Linked DNA regions of Homo sapiens: region 2 is linked to region 1. A link means that fine-mapping ties the variant in region 1 to the expression of a gene that starts in the linked region. Tissue or cell type: CD4 T cells. Region 1 holds a variant in brackets; the other region holds the start of a gene. All regions are shown on one strand. Distances are from middle to middle.

Region 1 (4,242 bases):
AGTACCATGATCTCGGCTCACTGCAACCTCTGCCTCCTGGGTTCAAGAGATTCCTGCCGGGCGCGGTGGCTCACGCCTGTAATCCGAGCACTTTGGGAGGCCGAGGTGGGTGGATCACGAGGTCAGGAGATTGAGACCATCCTGGCTAACACGGTGAAACCCCATCTCTACTAAAAATACAAAAAAATTAGCCGGGTGTGGTGGCAGGCACCTGTCGTCCCAGCTACTTGGGAGGCTGAGGCAGGAGAACGGCGTCAACCCCGGAAGCAGAGCTTGCAGTGAGCAGAGATTGCGCCACTGCACTCCAGCCTAGGCGACAGAGCAAGACTCCGTCTCAAAAAAAAAAAAAAAAAAAAAAAAAAAAAGAGATTCTCCTACCTCAGCCACCCCAGTAGCTGAGATTACAGGCACCCGCCACCATGCCTGGCTAATTTGTTGTTGTTGTTGTTGTTAAATTTTAGTAGAGATGGGGTTTCACCACGTTGGTCAGGCTGGAGAACTGTCAAACAATTTCTGAAGTGGTTGTACTATTTTACACTCCCATCAATAGTATATAAAAGTTTCAGTTGCTCCTGTACTCTGTATGTAAATTGGAGAGGTCCCTATTTACTTTTCAGTGTCATCTCTTTTCAGAGACTTTAACAGAATGTATTTTGTAGCATTAAATTCCAAGTATGTGGGCAACCAAATCCTGGATAATTCTTGCCCAGTTACCAATATAAATTCTCAACATACACAAATACAATATTTCATACAAAAGATAGTCATCTCATTTTATGTGATAGTTTTATTCCTGAAAAACTTATAAAGCTAATTTGTGTAATTCAAATCATTAACTGAATGCATCTTCCCCTACTTCCATGTCCAGTTCAAATGGTCCTCTTGCAGGATGTTCTATCATGTTGTCCTGAACTGAAGTGATTCCTTCTTTAAATTTTAGCAGTTTCAGCCGGGCGCGGTGGCTCACGCCTGTAATCCCAGCACTTTGGGAGGCCGAGGCAGGCGGATCACAAGGTCAGGAGATCAAGACCATCCTGGCTAACACGGTGAAACACCGTCTCTACTAAAAAGCACAAAAAATTAGCCAGGTGTGGTGGCGGGCGCCTGTAGTCGCAGCTACTCGGGAGGCTGAGGCAGGAGAATGGCGTGAACCCGGGAGGCGGAGCTTGTAGTGAGCGGAGATCGCACCATTGCACTCCAGCCTGGGCAACAGAGCCAAACTCTGTCTTAAAAAAAAAAAAAAAATTTAGCAGTTTCAGTGATTTGACACTTGTCATCAATGTCAGTTCTTTGGGCCTTCATAATTTATGGCATCATTGCTTACCCTATTTAATCACATGTAAACATTTTATTTCCACACACACACACACACACACACACAAACAATACAGTGCCTTCACTGAAGGAAGGAACTATATCTTATACTTAAAAACAAACAAACAAACAAAACAAAAAACTCCTAGGCCAGGCATGGTGGCTCATGTCTGTTATCCCAGCACTTTGGGAGGCCAAGGTGGAGGATTGCCTGAGCCCAGGAGTTAGAGACCACCCTGGGCAACATGGTAAGATCTCATTTCTTTTCAAATTTGAAACAAAACAAAACAAAATTCAGTCATCCAGTGGAGTGTCTTGCACATAGGAGGTACTCTAGCATTTCTTGCTTCATTGGTTTTTCTGTTTTTGTTTTGCTTTAGGCAAGGTACAACTGTTGTTTTTTTTTTTTTTTTTTTTGAGACGGAGTCTCACTCTGTTGCCCAGGCTGGAGTGCAGTGGCACGATCTCGGCTCACTGCAAGCTCTGCCTCCCAGGTTCACGCCATTCTCCTGCCTCAGCCTCCCGAGTAGCTGGGACTACAGGCACCCGCCACCACGCCCAGCTAGTTTTTTGTAATTTTAGTAAAAATGGGGTTTCACCGTGTTGGCCAAGATGGTCTCAATCTCCTGACCTCGTGATCCACCCTCCTCGGCCTCCCAAAGTGCTGGGATTACAGGTGAGAGCCACCACGTCCGGCCTTTAGGCAAGGCATAACTGTTATGACAGCTTAAGTAAATTATATGCTTTTTAAAAATTATATGGTAATTTTCTCAATTTTCCATTTTTCTTGACTAGTGTAAGCCAGACCTAAGTTAAGATTATTGACTAAAATACACTTCTCTTACCACTTTACAAATTCCTAGTTTAAACCACCTCCTGCTTGGTGTGGTTTGAAATAAAAAGCACACCATAAGGAATTAGAGATTCTGTCTGGGGTTTCCCTCTAATTCTCCCTGGGGGCTGTGGGTTGCCATTTACAGCCCTCCACAAGGTTTTGAGTCCTTTTGCCAGTCCCTGAAGGCTGATATTCTCAGAAGCCCAGCTTAGAGATCATCTTGTCTGCTCCCTCCTCCTGCACACAGAAACTTGCTCCATCCTTAACATGCCTACACCGCTTTGTTCATGCCTGTTTAGTACTTGACATTTTGAGGCATAATTTATTATATACATGTTTGCCTGCCCATAGCTGGACCGTTGAGCTTCTCCAAGCAGGGATCATGTACCTTAGACATTCCTTGCTTGGCATGTAGTAAGTGTTCAACAAATGTTTGTTGAATAAATGCACGGATTAATGAGTGAGCAAATAAATATGA[C/CT]TTTTTTTTTTTTTTTTTTTGAGACAGAGTTTTGCTCTTGTTGCCCAGGTTGAGTATAGTGGCATGATCCCGGCCCCACTGCAGCCTCTGCCTCCTGGGTTCAAGTGATGCTCCTGCCTCAGCCTCCCAATTAGCTGGGATTATAGGTGCTCACCAGCATGCCCGGCTAATTTTTATATTTTTAGTAGAGACGGGGTTTCACCATGTTGGCCAGGCTGGTCTCGAGCTCCTGACCTCAGGTGATCTGCCCACCTTGGCCTCCCAAAGTGCTGGGATTACAGGTGTGAGCCACCGCATCTGGCCAGTTTTTCTAAAATATGTGAATCTCTGGGCATTTAGGCCTGAAGGAGACTAGTTTCTCTTATTCAAGCTCCATGAAGTAGATATACATATGGTATGTTGTTTTTGTTTGTTCAGCCTCTTCTTATCCCTTTTAGGATGAATTCCTCATTCTTGTGGGAATCCCATGTGGTTCGTTGTCACTTGACTCTCCTTCACCCCTATTTCTTTTTTCTTTGAGATGGAGTCTTGCTTCATTGCCCAGGCTGGAGTACAATGGCGTGATCTCGGCTTACTACCACCTCTGCCTCCCGGGTTCAAGCAATTCTCCTGCCTCAGCCTCCTAAGTGTCTGGGATTACAGGCACCTGCCACCACACTCAGCTAATTTTTGTATTTTTAGTAGAGATGGGGATTCGCCATGTTGGCCAGGCTGGTCTCGAACTCCTGACCTCAGTTGATCTGCCCGCCTTGGCCTCCCAAAGTCATGGGATTACAGGCGTCAGCCACTGCTCCCGGTCATTCACCCCTATTTTTTTTTTAATTTTAAAATTTTTGTTCTTACTCTCAGAATTTAAAACCCCTACCTATAAAGAAAAAAAAAAGGAAAACAAGTTTGAGCAGTATAAAAACTTCAGGTGGCTGTGCTACCTGAATCCTCTTAAAGATGGTAAATATACTTTAAAACTCCTAAGCTTTTTTTTTTAACATGAAAATCAAAATCAGACTTGGAAGACATTCTGGATAGTCACTCAACCTTCTAAAACATGATGTCTACACTTTTATAATAACTGGAAAAAGTATCAAGTTTGTAAAATATATTTAGTCGAACAATCTGTTCCAGGAGAAGATCATGTATTCAGTTATTTCTTCATTCATCCATTCAGCAAACATATATTGAAGAGATACCATTTAGCAATTTTTTATTTCATTTTGTGTCGCAGTCCTAGCTATCCTATTTGTTTGCAATGTATACTCAATTTATCTGCCAGCTGTCACTCCCCTCTCCCAAGACAAAAGTGGGTTACTGCTAAGCTTTCAGTCTCTCCTCCCCATTCCTTCTCACCCCATCCTAGTATGGCCCCTTCTCCCCAGATGTCTTATGTATCATATATTTTTCTGTCCCAGATCCAAATGACATACATAAAGTAGGACAAATGTCAATTAAGTTCTTTACATGTAGTGAGGTAGTTGTAGGAGGAGTATGGACAAGGGAAAATGATGGCATGGCATTTTGAGACTTGGTGGGGATATATATGGTCTAACCAATAATCAGGACATGTGCCCTGACAAGTAAATGGAGGTGTATAGTAAAAACAAAGGCAGGATATTTGAAA
Region 2 (4,242 bases), 170 kb before region 1:
GTCGTAATAACCTTAAAACAAAAGGATGATGATCATGTATAGAAAACGTAATCCCTTTTGAAGTAAGGGAATAGACCAAACGGGGAAGAAAAACAAGAGAGGAAAAAATGATATAATACCCAAACTCAAAAAGCTTAGGTTAACTTCTGTTACATATAAACCACTCTACAGAGGTTGTCTTTCATTTCTGACTTAAACATTAGAAACTACCTTTCTGCAAAACTCGCCTCTGACATCTCAATATTAGGCATATAAACAAAAGCCTTAACATAAGCAGTTATTTTGTCTCTTTTTCCATTAATAACAGACCAAACTGACTAGTTTTAGTTATTTCTTCTCTTCCTTACTCTGCCCACCCTCTGCTCAGAGATGAAATGGCCAAGGCAGGAAAACTGTTGGAAAGTCCCGTGTCCACACCAACTGGAGAGGTCTCAGGTCAACAATGAAAGGGAAAATCAAGGCACAGCTAAAAAGGCCTCCAAGAGCCTAATGATCAGATACCACACGGAAATCAGGATGAAACACCGAGGTCTGAGGAGCAATTAAAATTATCTGTATCTCCTACAGCCACTGATTACCAAAAGACGTGTTCCCTCTACCAAGGCAGGTTCATTATATAATATACAACGTCCAACAAAGTTTGTTAACTGTTACATAACATCCTCCTATAAAAAACTTTCTTTTAAAAAAAAATCTGGGCGATAATAACCTTACCTTTCCATTGTATTCTATAAAACATTGTTTTGAGCAGTAATGGGTATCAGGCGCGGTGTTAAGCCCTGGGCAATGGAGAAATGCTGAAAATCCAGTCCTCAAAGGAGTTCACAGCCCAACGTACAACATGGCAAGATTTCGGCACGTCCAAGCTTGCAAACTCCCAAAGAATTCAGGAAGGAAGATAACTTAAAACTACACTGAAGAACGTTACCTGCGGTGCACGTCACAGCTGAAGAGCCAGAGTTAAGCTCTAAATTAAGATCAGTTGCACCGCTCAGTGTGCCACATTTCTCACAAGACCATAGATCCCAAGACCATAAGGTTTTAATTTTTTTTTTTTTTTTTTTTTTTGAGACGGAATTTCGCTCTTGTTGCTCAGGCTGGAGTGCAATGGCACGATCTCGGCTCACTACGACCTCCACCTCCCGGGTTCAAGCGATTCTCCTGCCTCAGCCTCCCTAGTAGCTGGGATTACAGGCATGCGCCACCACGCCCGGCTATTTTGTATTTTTTTTAGTAGAGACAAGGTTTCTCCATGTCGGTCAGGCTGGTCTTGAACTCGCTACCTCAGGTGATCCGCCCGCCTAGGCCTCCCAAAGTGCTGGGATTACAGGGGTGAGCCACCGCGCCCGGTAGACCATAATGTTTTAAATATGCGCGGGAAGTTTAGCCCCTACAGCTCCAAAATGACGTCGATTCTGCATAGCACACAAGGACCTAAAATCTAAGTTTTTGTTTTAAAGGCACCCTACACGAGAAAACTTTTACTGTGGAGCTTCAAAATCTCCCATGCTACTACCGCATCCAGCGCCAGCGGGGAGTCGGTAGGTCAGTGCCCGCCCGGCCTCCTCGAGCGAGCCCCGGCGGCTGCAGAGATTTCTTGAGCGCCCGCGTACCTCTCCCCGGCCTCCCCAGCTTCCATTATACACGCCCTCGTTTTCCTCGCGGAGCCCCAGCTCTTTCAGCCACGCATACTGGGGCTGATTGATGAGGAGAGTGGACATGAAGGCGGCAGGCCTGCTCCAAGGTCCAGAGAGCTTGCTGGTCTTTGCAGCGTGCACACACAGCGCGCGAGGAAGGCGCCACATACTGAGCCCGGGACTCGGGATGAGCCCAAGGCCCTGAGAGCTGCTGAAATAGAGCCCCGCCCCCCGCCCGGGAGAACCCATTGGGCAGACCCGACCCCTCCCACTGGGCACGACCCCGCCACCGCCCCGTCTGCCCCTGGTCTTCCGGAGGAGCCTGCGGCTGAATCCTGCCTGGAACAATGGGAGTGCTACAGGGAGGAGTGGGCTGCTGCCATCTGGTGAAAGACTCCGGGAGCCACAGTTCCAGCTGGGAATTCTTTTCAGCAAAATATTGGCGCTGAAGTACAGTAGGCTATAGCAGGGGTTCTGAAACTGTAAAATGCGTGTAATGACCTGGTCGTCGTGGTAAATGCACATTCTGATTCAGTAAGTCTGGGCTAGGGTCGGAGAGCCGACATTCCTAACCAGCTCCTCAGCGATGGTGACGCCTCTTGTCCCTGGAGTAGGCAACGGAGGGTTTGTATTGGGGGGCGGGGGAAGGGTTGGTTGTTTTCACTGTTTTGGTAGATTACAAATTAAAGTTTTCTAATTAATGATAAATATTAGATTGCTGCATTTCCTCTATAAATATCCTGCCTGGGTATATTCTTACTTTTTTTTTTTTTTTTTTTTTTTGGAAACGGAGTTTCGCTCTTCTTGCCCAAGCTAGAGTGCAACGGCGCGATCTCGGCTCACTGCAACCTCCGCCTACCGGGTTCAAGCGGATTCTCTTGCCTCAGCCTCCTGAGTAGCTGGGATTACAGGTGTGCACCACCACACCCGGCTAATTTTTTGTATTTTTAGGACAAACGGGGTTTCACCATGTTAGTCAGGCTGGTCTGGAACTCCTGACCTGAGATGATCTGCCCGCCTCAGCCTCCGAAAGTGCTGGGATTAGAGACATGAGCCACTGCGCCCGGCCTCTTACTTTTTTTTTTTTAAGATGGAGTCTCGCCCTATCGCCCAGGCTGGAGTGCAATGGCACGATCTCCACTCACTGCAACTTCAACCTCCCAGGTTCAAGTGATTCTCCTGCCTCAGCCTCCCCAGTAGCTGGGATTACAGGTGCACACCACCACACCAGCTAATTTTTGTATTTTTAGTAGAGACGGGGTTTCTCCCTGTTGGCCAGGCTGCTCTCGAACTCCTGACCTCGTGATCTGCCCGCCTCTGCCTCCCAAAGTGCTGGGATTACAGGCGTGAGCCACTGTGTCCGGCCTATTCTTACATTTTTTTTTTTTTTTTGAGACGTAGTCTCGCACTGTTGCCAGGGCTGGAGTCCAGTGGCGCAATCTCGGCTCACTGCAACCTCCGCCTCCCGGGTTCACGCGATTCTCCTTGCCTCAGCCTCCTGCGTAGCTGGGATTACAGGCGCCCACCACCACGCTTGGCCAATTTTTTGTATTTTGAGTAGAGAAGGGGTTTCACTATGTTGGCCAGACTGGTCTCGAATTCCTGACCTCGTGATCCGCCCACCTCAGCCTCCCAAAGTGCTGGGATTACAGGTGTGAGCCACCACGCCCAGCTCTTACTCTTAAAGAATAAAGACAGTTTTGATCAATTTCTTTCATTCTCCATTTCTGTCTTCCTACAATATCCTTTCCATTCATGCATGCCCCATCTCATTTCACAACAACTGGGCCTACCCTGTAAAACGGAAATACTAATATCTCAATCATCATTATTTGAACATGAGTTTAAAATATGCTTGCCCACGCTAGAGTGCAGTGGCAGGATCATGGCTTACTGAAGCCTCGACCTCCGAGGCTCTAGTGATCCTCCTACCTCAACCTCCCAAGTAGCTGGGACTACAGGCATGCCATCACACCCAGCTAATTTTTGAGGATTTTTTGTAGAGACAGGGTTCCCCCATGTTGCCCAGGCTGGTCCGCACCTCCTCGGCTCAAGGGATCTGCCTTGCGCCTCCCAAAGAGCTGGGATTACAGGCTTGAGCCACCACTCCTGGCCCCTTTCATCTCTGCATTCAAACATAAGCTTTATCTCTTCCACCCTTATAGTACAAATGATTTGAACAAACACTCTGCATGTATCAAGCAGCTACCAGAAACTGCAGTTAGTACTAGGCATACATGAATGATGCTTCCTTTTGTAAATGCTACAGTTTTTTCCTGTTAGGGCAAGGACCATCTCTGACTCATCTTTGCATTGCTCCACAGTTCCTAGCATTGTTCCAAGTTTACGCTCACTTACATGAGTATATGAACAAATGAACCAATGAATAACACCGTCGAAGGAGTTGCAATGCCCTATCTGACATTGGTAATCTCTATCAACAACCCTGCTGCTGTCTTCCATCTACACGGAGGACCATGGTGCTAATTTTTCTAATTTTAATTCTCAGACTTTATTTATTTATTTATTTATTTATTTAGAGACGGAGTCTCACTCTGTCCCCAGGCTGGAGTGCAGTGGTGCAATCTTGGCTCACCACAACCTC

Which allele goes with the higher level. Alleles are on the strand shown, and positions count from the first base shown. SD is a standard deviation of normalised expression in the study named.
For the expression in CD4 T cells of the gene that starts at base 1,826 in region 2, CT is the low allele of the variant in region 1 and C is the other (large effect, 1.2 SD a copy in CEDAR).

The links. PIP is the estimated chance that this variant, and not a neighbour inherited with it, causes the effect. A credible set is the group of variants that fine-mapping cannot tell apart.
Region 2: it holds the start of ALDH7A1, and the variant in region 1 is the best candidate, but not a certain one, in a credible set for the expression of ALDH7A1 in CD4 T cells (CEDAR, PIP 0.54).

Annotation. Positions count from the first base shown.
Region 1 is chr5:126,767,601-126,771,842 of GRCh38, forward strand. The region is part of intron 1 of LMNB1-DT (LMNB1 divergent transcript); the gene reads right to left. Among named protein-coding and RNA genes, the nearest start is that of LMNB1-DT, 6.8 kb to the right of the region's middle. The variant C/CT (reference allele first, on the strand shown) is at 2,628.
Region 2 is chr5:126,593,394-126,597,635 of GRCh38, forward strand. It overlaps ALDH7A1 (aldehyde dehydrogenase 7 family member A1), which reads right to left and starts at 1,826. Exons shown (of 18, transcript NM_001182.5): 1 at 1,614-1,826; 2 at 1-11. The coding sequence starts at 1,805. RefSeq lists a silencer at 4,130-4,242.